3 separate regions of the Homo sapiens genome follow, and all the other regions are linked to region 1. Evidence: fine-mapped expression QTL. A gene starts in region 1. Each other region holds a variant in brackets. All regions are shown on one strand. Distances are between the middles of the regions.

Evidence for each region. PIP is the estimated chance that this variant, and not a neighbour inherited with it, causes the effect.
Region 2: its variant is fine-mapped to the expression of BUB3 in esophagus mucosa (GTEx, PIP above 0.99).
Region 3: its variant is fine-mapped to the expression of BUB3 in monocytes after interferon gamma (Fairfax 2014, PIP 0.95).

What each region holds. Positions count from the first base shown.
Region 1 is chr10:123,152,626-123,156,824 of GRCh38, forward strand. It overlaps BUB3 (BUB3 mitotic checkpoint protein), which reads left to right and starts at 1,777. Exons shown (of 8, transcript NM_004725.4): 1 at 1,777-1,860; 2 at 2,293-2,487; 3 at 3,033-3,102. The coding sequence starts at 2,293. RefSeq lists enhancers at 1,448-1,742, 1,462-1,631, 1,468-1,627, 2,358-2,427 and a cis regulatory region at 1,547.
Region 2 is chr10:122,645,330-122,649,557 of GRCh38, forward strand. No RefSeq gene overlaps it. Among named protein-coding and RNA genes, the nearest start is that of SPADH, 25 kb to the right of the region's middle. RefSeq lists an enhancer at 2,004-2,298. The variant A/G (reference allele first, on the strand shown) is at 2,386.
Region 3 is chr10:123,521,646-123,525,873 of GRCh38, forward strand. It overlaps LINC02641 (long intergenic non-protein coding RNA 2641), which reads left to right. Exons shown (of 12, transcript XR_007062326.1): 9 at 2,207-2,759. Among named protein-coding and RNA genes, the nearest start is that of GPR26, 140 kb to the right of the region's middle. The variant G/GT (reference allele first, on the strand shown) is at 2,190.

The DNA.
Region 1 (4,199 bases):
ATTGTTGCCAGATTTCCTGTCTCAAGACTATCAATTCATTTGAATAATCAGCAAAATCATCAGCCTCCTTTCAGCCTCTAAACTGGATTTAAAAGATTGACGTTTCTTAAAACTCAAATCGAGTCGGGCTGCAACTGCATGCCCAGAGGGACCTGAATCATACACACACTGGATAATGAAATACACTTAGATTTTATTAGTGGGTAATTCATGCTCAGAATCTTGGAACAATAATATAATTAAATAAACAACTGGGAGAAGGAACCAGATAAGTCAGGAGGTAAAATTATTTAGCTAAAGTTAGAATGGAAGTAAGGAACTGCATTTCAAAATTTTGAATTCAGCCATTAACTTGTGGAAAGAGAAGAGATAGAGAACCAAGTACCAGGACTGGCAAGGAAGGAGGGCAAGAGTCTTTCAGCAGTAATGTCATCAATGCAGTAGGCAGAAAGGTTGTTGTTGTATGTGTGTTTCTTGTGTCAGGAATCACAGAAAGAGGTGCATCCAATTCAGGGTGTGTGAATGCATAAAGATCATCAACACTTTCTCATTAATGTCCCTTAAAAGTTAATCACTTTAACCCCACAATTTTCTCTCACTTCACACAAAATCAAATAAAACGATATATATTTTTCTTTTACAAAAGGCAGTGAAAAAGCGGTTAAAGCATGGATTAAATTGAAATTTTTCAGTGAGCCTTTGACATTCAAGAATAACTCAGTCACTTCATTCTACTGATTAAGTATTGCTTTTCTTTCATGGAGATAAAATAATTTCTCATACTCAAGCAACCTTCTTGATCCTCATTTCTAGAGGATTCTAGAAAACAGCAAATGGAGCACACTGAGCCTGCAACTTTGGGGAGTGGCAGGACAGAGTGGAAGGGGAGAGGCTTGTAGCTGTCGTTTCAGGACCCTTCAAAAAAGAGCTCTAAAAGAAGTGGTGGGAGCTTTAACACATTGCAGAGTACTGTCTCCCAGGCTGTTCACCCTTCTGAAGGGGGGTTCCTGAAGGGCAAAGGCTGGTCTGATTACATGCATCTTTCCAGAGCCTCTCACCAGGCCTGGCGCCAGTGGAGGCTCAATAAATGTTTGTGGAAAGATGGGGTGGAGAGATAAAGCATAATATAAATATGAATGGGTTTCTTCAGCAGAACTTGAGACAATGGGAAATGGGAGACCCTGGTTTATAGGTGGAAATTCCCAAGAAATGAGAAAAAAAAAATCAAGGCAAAATAATGCAGTTGATAGAGCAAATATTTCCTCCTCTACATCAACTTTTGGTTAGCTTCACGGGCGTGTGCACGCCCAGGGATAGGGAGACAACTTTAGGACTATATAAGTATTGCCCAAAATGGGATTCTTGTGTTTCAGAGACTAACTTCAAGGGGAGGGCGCCATGGACAGAGCTGTAAAGATCTTTCCCGCTTTCTATGAAGAGGGCGGGCAGAGCGTCAGCCCCTAGAAAACTACATTTCCCAGAATGCCATACGCAGGCGGGAGAGGGCATGAACAGAGCCTTGGCGCGATGCTCCTTGGGAGGTGTAGTTTCCACGCGTCCAGCTCGAACGCTGATGCCCCAGCGCGGTGGTAAAATGAGCCCACGTGATCGGAAAAGCAGCGGTTTCCCTTTGAGCCGGAACAGGATGACTGGGTTGACCGATGCTGGGCAGCTGAGCGGACCAATCGGCCCCCTAGACTGAGACGTTGGCGTTTGAAATCAGCCAATGGCAGGTCTACACTGGAGCTTCCTCTCCGCCTCCTTCGCCTAGCCTGCGAGTGTTCTGAGGGAAGCAAGGAGGCGGCGGCGGCCGCAGCGAGTGGCGAGTAGTGGAAACGTTGCTTCTGAGGGGAGCCCAAGGTAGGGAGGCGAGGCGACGGTGTGCGGGAGCGGGCTCTCCAGGGACTTCCCGGGTCCGCAACTGGCAGGGCCGTTCGATTCGCAGGGGATCCCGTTTCGTTTCTGTTGTTTTCCCTTTATTTTTAGGAGTGCCCGGGGCGACGGGACCCCGGGAGAGGGGAAAGGGAACAGTCTGGGGTCCGGGCATCGCTGTGGGCCGGGCTGGGTTTAGGGGGACGGCGGTGCGGGCTGGGCCGGTTTGGGCGCGGCGGGGGCCGGATGATGGGGCGAGTCCGGACCTTGGCGGGCGAGTGCTCGGCGCAGGCGCAAGCGCAGAGTCTCCTCGCGGTCGTCCTCTCGGCCCCTCCCTCTGGGGGGACCCCCAGTGCCAGGCTGTCAGTGCGCAGCCCCAGCCCGCGGGACCCCTGGGGACTCTGGGCGCCTGTTCTGCAGATGACCGGTTCTAACGAGTTCAAGCTGAACCAGCCACCCGAGGATGGCATCTCCTCCGTGAAGTTCAGCCCCAACACCTCCCAGTTCCTGCTTGTCTCCTCCTGGGACACGTCCGTGCGTCTCTACGATGTGCCGGCCAACTCCATGCGGCTCAAGTACCAGCACACCGGCGCCGTCCTGGACTGCGCCTTCTACGTAGGTGCCCTCCCGCCCTGCTCCTGCCCTCTTACTGTGTTAACGATTCTCCACGTGAGGAGCGTTTCTTTTCCAGTGTTGGGTAGAGGCGTCTGTCGGTGGGGTTATTTGGACAGTTCTTTAGCTTTTCAGGAGCATCTGCCTTGAACCTGTACCGTTTTGGGTTGGAGACATGCAGACATTGGAAACTCCGTCTCCCCTTTTCTGTTACACGCTTGTGGAGTAACTCTAAACTTTCTGAAAATACGATCATTATATTTGCAACAATACTGTTTTGGCTGCCGTATTGAAAGGAACCGTTTAGGGGAAATGTATGTTTACCCTCAGCTAGCGTGTTGGCTAGGATAAAGCAGCCCTCCTTTAATTTCCAGACACAGGAGTTTAGTGACCACTTGCTTTTTTATGCTGTTTTTTGGTTTGTTTACCATGAATAGTTGAGCCCAGTGCATATCCCGAGCATAAACTGAACACTTGCTTGTAGAAATAAGAATGTTGAAACCCTTTCAAAAGTTCTAGTTTTTAAACGGTTCAAAACTATTTTATAGGATCCAACGCATGCCTGGAGTGGAGGACTAGATCATCAATTGAAAATGCATGATTTGAACACTGATCAAGGTAATGTGACCATATCTTTACCAGTTTGTTTTCTTGGCTAGTGTTCTTAAGTATAAATGTTTATGTAGGAAGAGTGGTTCCTAAATTGCTTAGTTACTAAGTTGCTTAAGTACAGGTGGCTTGAATTTAGGATTTTTTTAATTTAAATGATAACCATTAAGTTACTGATTACAGAATATTATGCATGTATTTTTGCAGTAAAGCCAGTTATGGTCGCCATTGTCAGTGTTTACATAAATTGACACTCAAGTATTTGGCCTTTATTTTGTCCTTAGAAGTGGGCTGGATCCCAGACTGGCCAGCGTTTCATTAGGATTTTCCACTACAATGCTGATGTTTTGAGAGTTCAGTTTTTAGAAGCTAATTTAGTTTTCAGAAGCTAAAGGTAGATTTAAAACCTGACAAAAAATAGGCAATCATGTCTATATTAATTGTGTTTGTTTTAGGTATTTAGCAAAATATGTTTCCGTTGCATTTTTTGAATGAGTAACTAGATGATACATTTCCTTTCGGTTAAGTAATTTCTTAGAGATCCAGATATGAAATGACTTACTCAAATTTTTTTGGTGACATTGGCACAGTGTTAGAGATTGGACTGGAGCCCAAATGCATAGAGCTCTCTAGCTGAACATTTGTTTGCATGTGTATTCATCAGACATAGGTATTCTAAGGAGATAGGAGGGTACAGAGATATGACTAGAGAGAAGATGAGTTGAGCAACAGGAGAATGGATGGAGGATGGCCACATTTTGTCAAAAAACTAAGCACCCAATTAGAAGAGGCTTTTGCATGAAAGCTACTTCTTCTGTAACTTATACTGCAGGTATTGGGTTTTGTTTGCCAGTAGCTTACCCTGTGTAATAAGTAAGCTTGTAAGTCTAGGTTCTATTTGTTCAGAAACTTGTAGGGGTAGGGAGAAACACTGAAAAGCAAACGTCTCGATTTTCAGTGTTACATAGAGAATTAGCTGTTTATTCTATGAAAGTCACTGCCAAACTTCATGAAATCCTTTCTTTTTCTTTCTTGTTTTTTTTTTTGAGCTAGAGTCTCACTCTGTTGACCAGGCTGGAGTGCAGTGGTGTGATCTTGGCTCACCA
Region 2 (4,228 bases), 510 kb before region 1:
CTTGGCACAGGTGTATGGTGGGGTGGGTGGAGGTGGGGTGAAGAAAGATGGGGTGGGTAGAGGTGGGGTGAAGAAAGGTGGAGCGAGGTTTTCCCCAGATCCGAAGGCTCAGTGCTGGGTCAAAATGTCAAAGGTAAACAGGTGCTAACGTCTAAAGCCTCACCTGCAACTCTAAGCCAAACATTAGTAACAGCAGAGCTTTCTCTAGGTGGAATTTCTGAGCCTTTTTTTTTTTTTTTTTGAGACAGTGTCTTGCTTTGTTGCCCAGGCTTGAGTGCAGTGACACAATCTCAACTCACTGCAACCTCCGTCTCCTGGGTTCAAGCGATTCTTCTGCCTCAGCCTCCCTAGTAGCTAAGATTACAGACAGGCTAGACCATGCCCAGCTAAGTTTTGTATTTTTAGTAGAGACGGGGTTTCATCATGTTGGCCAGGCTGGTCTCAAACTCCTGACTTCAAGTGATCTGCCTGCCTAGGCCTCCCAAAGTGCCGGGATTACAGGTGTGAGCCACTGTACCCGGCCTCTTTTCTGACCTTTTATAAGCTCGCTTCTTAGGCCTGTAGCATAAATCTCAGCCTTTCCTTAGGGTAGAGCCAGCTGAATAAAGAACCTTTTTCAGAGTAAGTGTCAATTTGGCCACTGTTGCCTTCGTTTCTCCTAAGAACTAGATCCTTTCAAATTAAGCAGACAGGTGGGGTGGTTGTCATACAGAATGAGAAGGGGCAACTCGTGTGTCTTCCCAGTGTCCTTGGAGTGTTGGTTCTTCCCAAAGCAGGATATGCAGGATGCAGCCTGGAGAAAGACAAGAATGCTAAATGCATTGTAAGTTTCAGTGGCTGTGATTGAAAATTAAAGATGATTGCCTCCATTTCTCTAGGGATCTGCCTCTTTTGGTTTTTGACACTTCATCTCCAGAACTATGGGCTGGGGCGGTTCAGGGAAAGAAGCAAACTCCTTAGGGCCCTTAGGAAGGGAGTCCTGTTTGCATGAGGTCTCCAGAGAGAAGGAGATTGACAGGTGACCCAAGGAGCTCAGAAGAAACAAAGGGATGAGCTGGGTTCCAAGGAAGCAGTACATTTGCCTAGAAAATCAGAGAGATATCAGGCTCAGGGCTCCTAGGTCAGGCTTGGCAGGAATGGGAGCTTTTGTGTACTGCCCTGGCAATGCCAGTGTTTGCCCCATGAAGCCAATCTCAGGACCCCTGTCCCAAGAGGGGACAGCTAAGACAGCCTAACTCTGGATGTGTGAGTTGAGCTGCATGAGACCCCAGCAGGGCAATGGCTACAGGGGAAACCCCAGGACAAGGGGACAGAGAATTCCAGCAGAGACTTGGCCATAGCTGCCAGCTCTGACTAGGGCTGCCCAAGAGCTGCCCACCACCGGCAGCTGTGGTGAGACGCCATGAGCCTCCGTGGGATTCAGAGTGCGTCCTGAGCCCTACCAGGAGTCAGAGGAGCTAGGGGGCCCCAGGGACTGTCTCTTGTTGGTTTCCATTCTCCTTGCCATCACCCCCAACACTCACCCTTAACCTCCCAGGCTGGGGCAGTTAAGGAAAGCCTTAAGGGTTCCCCTGTGACCATGAGTCTGCCCTGAAAAGCAATGTCAATGCAGTGGAATGCAGGCACCAGCCCAGGACTGGATCTGAGCAGATGCAGAAGCAGCAGGAAGCTGGAGTGGTGTGCGGGTTTGAGGTACACATCAATCAGAGTAACAAAGTGGCAAGTCAGACATCCGAGAATTCAAAAAAGTTCAGAGGCTGGGAACCCAACATGGAATCCCAACTCCATCCATTCATTCGTTCGTTCATTCATTCATTCATTCATTCATTCGTTCATTCACTCATTCATGAATGTCTAAGTTGTACCCTGTGCTTGAGAAGGAGCAGTGGAGGCTGTGGGTCCCTGCTGTGAGGATGAGGGGGACCCTGGGGCTGGGGGCTCAGCAGGCTTGCCCTGAGTGGTCCCCATGAGCGCCAGCCCCAAGCCAGGCTCTGTACTTGAACCTGTGGATACAAAGAGGGGTCATGCAGGGGTCACCATTATAAGGGGAAATTTATTTCCACAGGAAACATTTCCACCTCCTGAAGTGTCCCCTCTCCTTAAAAATAGCCCCAGTAGCCAGTGCTTCTTCACAGATAACCACCACAGTGTTAGCCACTTGGCAGCCTCTCAAGGAAGGAGGTAATGGCCCCTTTATCAGCAGGGCCCAGCCAGGAGAGTGGCTAGTAGGGACAGATGAGTTTGGTAGCAAGAGGCAGTGAGGTCCAGGTGAAAGGTAGAGCAGAAGACAGGGCCACCGGTGACAGGGGCTCTGGACTAAAGCTGTCAGAGTGTGACTGAGGGTCCAGTCACAGGGGACACAGAGAAGTGGGCTTGCTTGGGAGC[A/G]GGGACCCATCCTCCCCATCCACACCACATCTCCACACTCAGGGAGGATTGGGCTGACACCAAGTGGCTGTGATTCCCAGCAACTGAGACTGTGGTTTGAGGCAAGGGTGCTCAACTCTACTGCACGTGAGAATGGCCCGGGGGCTTTTGAACCTGCTGCTGCCAGGCTGCACCCAAGCCAGTTAGATCAGAATCTAATCAGAGGGTAGGCCTGGACATTGGTGACCCACCAGACTCAGGTTGTTCCAAGATTGAGAGCTGCTGGTTTAGGACTCCTTAAATCCCTCTGAGAGAGTCCAGGTTGTGCCCTGTGCTTAAGAAGGAGCAGTGGAGACTATGGGTCCCTGCTGTGAGGATGAGGGGGACCCTGGTGCGGGGTTCTCAGCAGGCTTGCCCTGAGTGTTCCTGAAAGATCTACTTTCCAAGTCCCAAAAGACCGTATCAAAATCCCACTGACCTAAAGTGCCTCATTTCTGCTGATTCATATTTGCCCCAGCCTCTGCCATCCATAAGAACATGCCATGGAGGAAACACTGATTAAGCATCTTCTGCCAGCCTGGCACCTTGGACATAATCCTCTAATCCTCCATGTGGCCAGGTATTATTCTCACCTGGCAGGGATGGAAACTGAGGCTGAGAGAGGCAAGTCAGCACAGAACTGCACAGGATTCAGGTAGCGAGTGGCAGAGTTGGGGTCTGAGTCGGGGTCACTGACTTCTGGTCCTAGGTTCCCTCCTCCCTGTTCCATCATCCCCAAGGCACCAGGAGCCCAGGAGCCCAGGAGGCCTGGCCTCACATTGAGTTTGCACAGAGAACTGCATCAGACACACTCCTGTCTGCAGCTCCTATGTAAGATGTGGTACCAGGTGCAAAAGGAGGGCTTAAAGGAGGGTTGTGATGTCTACACCACACCCACACCCCAGCTGGCCCCACGGGACTACTCACTTGACCTGTGGTGGCTCCTCCAAGTTCTCCGCACCTCCAGTACCTGCTCATAGCCCGGTGATCCTGCTCCAGGCTCCACCTTCAGCAGAGTGACTGACAACCAGGGGCCAAGAGAACACAAGGCCGGGCCACATGGCACCTGTTTTGAGCTGTCTCCTGTGACCTTGTAGGGACAGAGGCTGCCCTCCAGCCCCTTCGAACCACAGCATCTCACCATCCTCCTGTTATCCCACCTGCCAGTGCCAGAGGGCGCTGCAGAACAACCTTGGAGCTATTTTATTCCTGAAGAACTTGTTACTGTGTTTACTGTGAGTGCCCGTGGTTGTCCATTACAGGAAGGGGTTCCACAGTTTTCAGCTCTAATAAAGGACTCCTGTGAAAGCCTGTCCTGGCTCCTTTCCATTACTTTAAGGGGACAGAATCCGATCTACTGTCTGACAACAGAGTGGATGGTAGCTCCCCTTTCTGCCTGGTCCCTACCACAGGCTGAAGGTGGCATTCAGCAGCCCCTTGAGATCTTGTCCCCTCCAGCCCTGTTCCTGGCATCCAAATCCCTGCAGTGGCTAGTAAGGGGTTCTGCCCTGGGCAGGGGCTCTATCCTCTGCAGGTTTGATGGCACCTGAATGGCTTCTGGTGTGTGGGAATCAGGGACAGCCCCAGCCAATGGTCGTTTCCTGTAGGGGATGAAACTTTGACCTCAGCATCTCTTCCCATTGCCTGTGTTGGCTGGAGTACTTAGTGTCCCGAGTGCTTGGCAAGGCCACTCAGGTGTGCACTGACTGGAGGGAGAAGGTCCTCTCGGGAAACCTGTGTCTGTGAAATGCTGCATTTTCAGAAATCATACAAGCTGGATGTTATGTGGCCATTATTAAAAATTAAATTGTAGAGTCTTACAATT
Region 3 (4,228 bases), 370 kb after region 1:
AACCTAACCAGCTCAGAGCTTGACCATGCGGGGCCCCGGACACCATAAAATGTGTGGTCTCTGTCAAGTGAACTGTGGCAGAACCAAGAACTTTGCTGCCTGCGTCTCTTCACTGAATGGCATTACTCCCTGCTCCACAGGCCCCTGAAAGCCCCCAGGCCTGCTAAGGGTAGCTTTGCATGGACAGGCACAGAGGGAGACACGTCACCCTCCCTGTGTCTTCTGTGCAAGGGCCCAGGTTGCCAGGCCTGAGCTGGAAACTGAGGCTCTGTAGAGAGCATGACCCAGACTTTGTCTCAAGGGACCTGAATTCTCAACAGAGGAGCCTGATGGGTAAACAAGATAAGGTCTTAAAATTTGCAACTCTTCTGTGTGGCAGGTATTTTCTTCCCATTTTATTTCTTCATCTACTCTTTCAATCAATATTTATTAGGCACCATTATGTGACACATGCTGGGCTGAATCCCAGGGATGGAGCCTCCTTCTTACCTCCCCTGTGCTCCAGCTCCACACCAAGTGCATATCTTCTGAGCCTGGCAAGCCCTCCTCTCTCCAGGCCTTCACAGCCACTGACTCCTTTTATCGGACCACTTTTTGTCCTCCCCACCACACTTCCCCACTTGGCAATCTGCGAATCACTTTTTTGAGACCTATCTTGAAAATCCCTTCTTGTGGACTATGGTGGATGTCCTGGCAGAAGCATGCTCCCTGGCTGTCTCTCTTCTCTGAATGACATTACCCCCTGCAAGATCAAGCACTCACGGTGTTGTTTTGTGATTCTTTACTTGTTTTTTATTTTATTTTATTTTTTTGAGACGGAGTCTCGCTGTGTTGCTCAGGCTGGAGTGCAGTGGTGCTATCTCGGCTCACTGCAAGCTCCACCTCCTGGGTTCACGCCATTCTCCTGCCTCAGCCTCCTGAGTAGCTGGGACTACAGGACCCGCCACCACGCCCAGCTAATTTTTTTGTATTTTTAGTAGAGACGGGGTTTCACCATGTTAGCTAGTATGGTCTCTATCTCCTGACCTCATGATCCTCCCGTCTCAGGCTCCCAAAGTGGATTCTTTACTTATAAACCTGCCTCCCACTACGAGCCTGTGATGGCTGATACTGCACCTTGAGCCATCTTTGTATTCCCAACACTCAGAACAGAGCCGTGCATTCAGGAGTTTCTTTATCTATGTGACGGTTGAATTGAATATCCTACTGCACACCAGAACCCTAAACCCTCACCTCCTTCTGCTCCAGTGTGCAACCATATGCAAATTCAGTGTGTCAATGAGATAGACATCTGCTTAAAAGTAAGATGAATGTGTGTCAGTAGGGGGCAATAAAAGTGGGGGATTGAGAAAGAAAGAGAACCCAGAGCCAAAGACCCCACAAAACCCAGGCCCCGTGACTCTCGAGTACCTCAAATCCATGGAAGCAAAAGGTTCTGAGGGCCTCCTGGCTCTACACTTCCTGCACAGCTGAAGCCAGCTGGCGAGGTGGCAGCTCTCTCTCACCTGTCAGAATTTCAGAACCTCATTATGACAAGCACCACTTCCACCCCACGTGCTCCTGGTGTCTGCTGGAACTGCTCACTGACAGTGCTTAGGTCCAGAAGAACTCGAAAATGCTTAATTGGTTAAACGAACGAGTGACTGATTAAGGAATAAAATCCAACCTGAAACAGTTGACAAAAGTAAAATGATGACTCTGTCATGTAATGATATAGGAAGACTAATGCACAGACATCTGTGGAGCTCCAGGATTTCAGGAATGGGTCAAGCCATAGACGCCACCAAGCTCTCATTTTAAGGCCATGGAATCTAAAGTCCGGGGAGGTTGTGACATTTCCCCAAAACACATAAAGCTAAGTTCATTCATGTATTTAATATTTGTTGAAGGTCTGTTATGACCAGGTACCCTTTTGCATATTTGGCATGCAACAGTGAATAAAACAGACAAAAATCCAGGTTCTCATGGAGCTTCCATTCCAGCTGGGAGAGAGAGACCATCAACAATAAACATAGTAAGCCACATAGCATGTTAGGAGGTGATCAGTGTAGTGGGGAAAAAGTAGACCAAGGTAAGGGGCCTAGGAATGTGTTGTTGGGGTCGAGATTACATATTGTAATTGGCAAAGAGTGGCAGTTTAAAAAGACAGAGTAGGATAAAGATTTTTAAAGGAAGTGAGAGAATATGGA[G/GT]TTTTTTTACCTTGCAGGCATATTATGAATATTCAGTGAAACAACGTGTGTGCTCACCAGGCAGGAAGAGCTCAGCAAATGGTGGCTGGTCTGGAAATTATTGTCATCACTATAATCCTCATCGACATCCTCAGCCTTATTGTCATCATCATCAACCTCATCAGTGTCATCATCAGCCTCATCAACGTCATCATCAGCCTCATCACTGTCATCATCAGCCCTTTGTCATCATCATCATCCACCTTGCTGTTCTCTTCCTTGTTGACATCATTATCCTCATCCTCCTCATCACCATCAACAGCATTATTTTTATTTTTTATTCTTCCACCTGTAAGAGTTTCTTTTCCTCCCTCTTATTGTTTTCCTCTTGGGATGACTAGTGGTGAAGGAAGTGTCAGAGGCAATGACCTCACAGCTGTCGTTGCCATGGGTGACACCTCCCAGAAAGAGCTTATTGGAACTTTCAGTCCAGGGGAGTTTCTGCTGTTCCAGGATGGAGGAAATGTTCAAGAACTGTGGAGCATCTGAGATTTTTTTCCTACTTTTGATGTCCACCTAGTCAAAGTTCAGGTAGGCTTATTGTCTATTATAAAAGCTCCAGGTTCCCAAAGCTTGGCGAAATCCCGTCTCTACAAAAAAATACAAAAATTAGCCAGGGTTGGTGGTGGCTTGCACCTGTAGTCCCAGGTACTCAGGAGGTTGAAGTGGGAAGATCGCTTGAGGCTGGGAGGTGGTGGTTGTGTTGAGCCAAGATCTCACCACTGCACTCCAGCCTGGGTGACAGAGTGAGACCTTGCCTCAAAAACAAACAAACAAAAAACCAAAGATTTTTTTAAAAAAAGAATTAGCAAAAAAGTGTGTGACAGAATCATTATTCATTTGGTGTTTATTGGTTATTTAGGGACTCTGAGGGTAAGAATCCCGGCTCATCACTTAGGAACTGCTGTGTTTCTGCCATCTCAGGGAGTCTGTTTAGTTCTCAGCTCTAGTAGTCTTGGCTTTGATCCCTAGCTGTTCCACTTTTCCAAGGGTGTAACTAGGCAATTTGCTTTGCCTACTTCCTTATCCTTTTTTAAATTATTATTATTATTATTGTTATTATTTTGAAATGGGGTCTCACTTTGTCACCCAGGCTGGAGTGCAGTGGTGCGATCGCAGCTCACTACAATGTCTGCCTCCTGAGTTCAAGTGATTCTCCTGCCTCAGCCTCCCAAGTAGCTGGGACTACAGGTGCACAGTACCATGCCAGGCTAATTTTTGTATTTTTAGTAGAAACAGGGTTTCACTGTGTTGGCCAGGCTGATCTCAAACTCCTGATCTCAAGTGATCCGCCTGCCTCAGCCTCCCAAAGTGCTGGGATTACAGGCATGAGTGACCGTGCCCAGCCTCTTTATCCTTAAAATGGGACTCACGATGGTATTCACTTTAGAAGGCTACTAGGAGGACCAAATGATATAATGTCTCAACAGTGCTTAGCTCCATGCCTGGCACATGGCAAGGACTTGGTTGATGATGGTAAAGATGGTGGGGATGATGATTTTCCACAAGGAAAAACATGAGTTACAGGAAACCAGCTGGAGATTGGTGGCTTCACCAGGTAATAAGCTGTGATTGGGTCCTCTGATGCCAGAGATGGAGATGGAGAGATTTTTTTATTCTTCAATGTAGTGGTCACATTGGGCCTTTAGGATTGAACTCTGTTTCAGAATTTAATATCCCAGGATTTGTTTACATATGTCTTCAGAAATCATGTCACACTCAAAGCCTCAATGAGAACTCTTTTTTCTAGAAATCTCTATTAAAACCCCAAAGTTGAATCAGGGTATTATATAGTCCTTAGATATCACATTGATATGTGTCCTACTAAGGATTAAATATGTCATGCAGACCCCAGTGTAGACATATAGTTTCATAAACCATATACCCAGAAACCCTAAGAAAATAGAGATTCTACTTGTGTGAAAAGTCCACTCAACATGCTAAATATTTCCTGTGTGTCTGTCATGAGCCAGGCAATGAATGTGATGGGCAGTACAGTG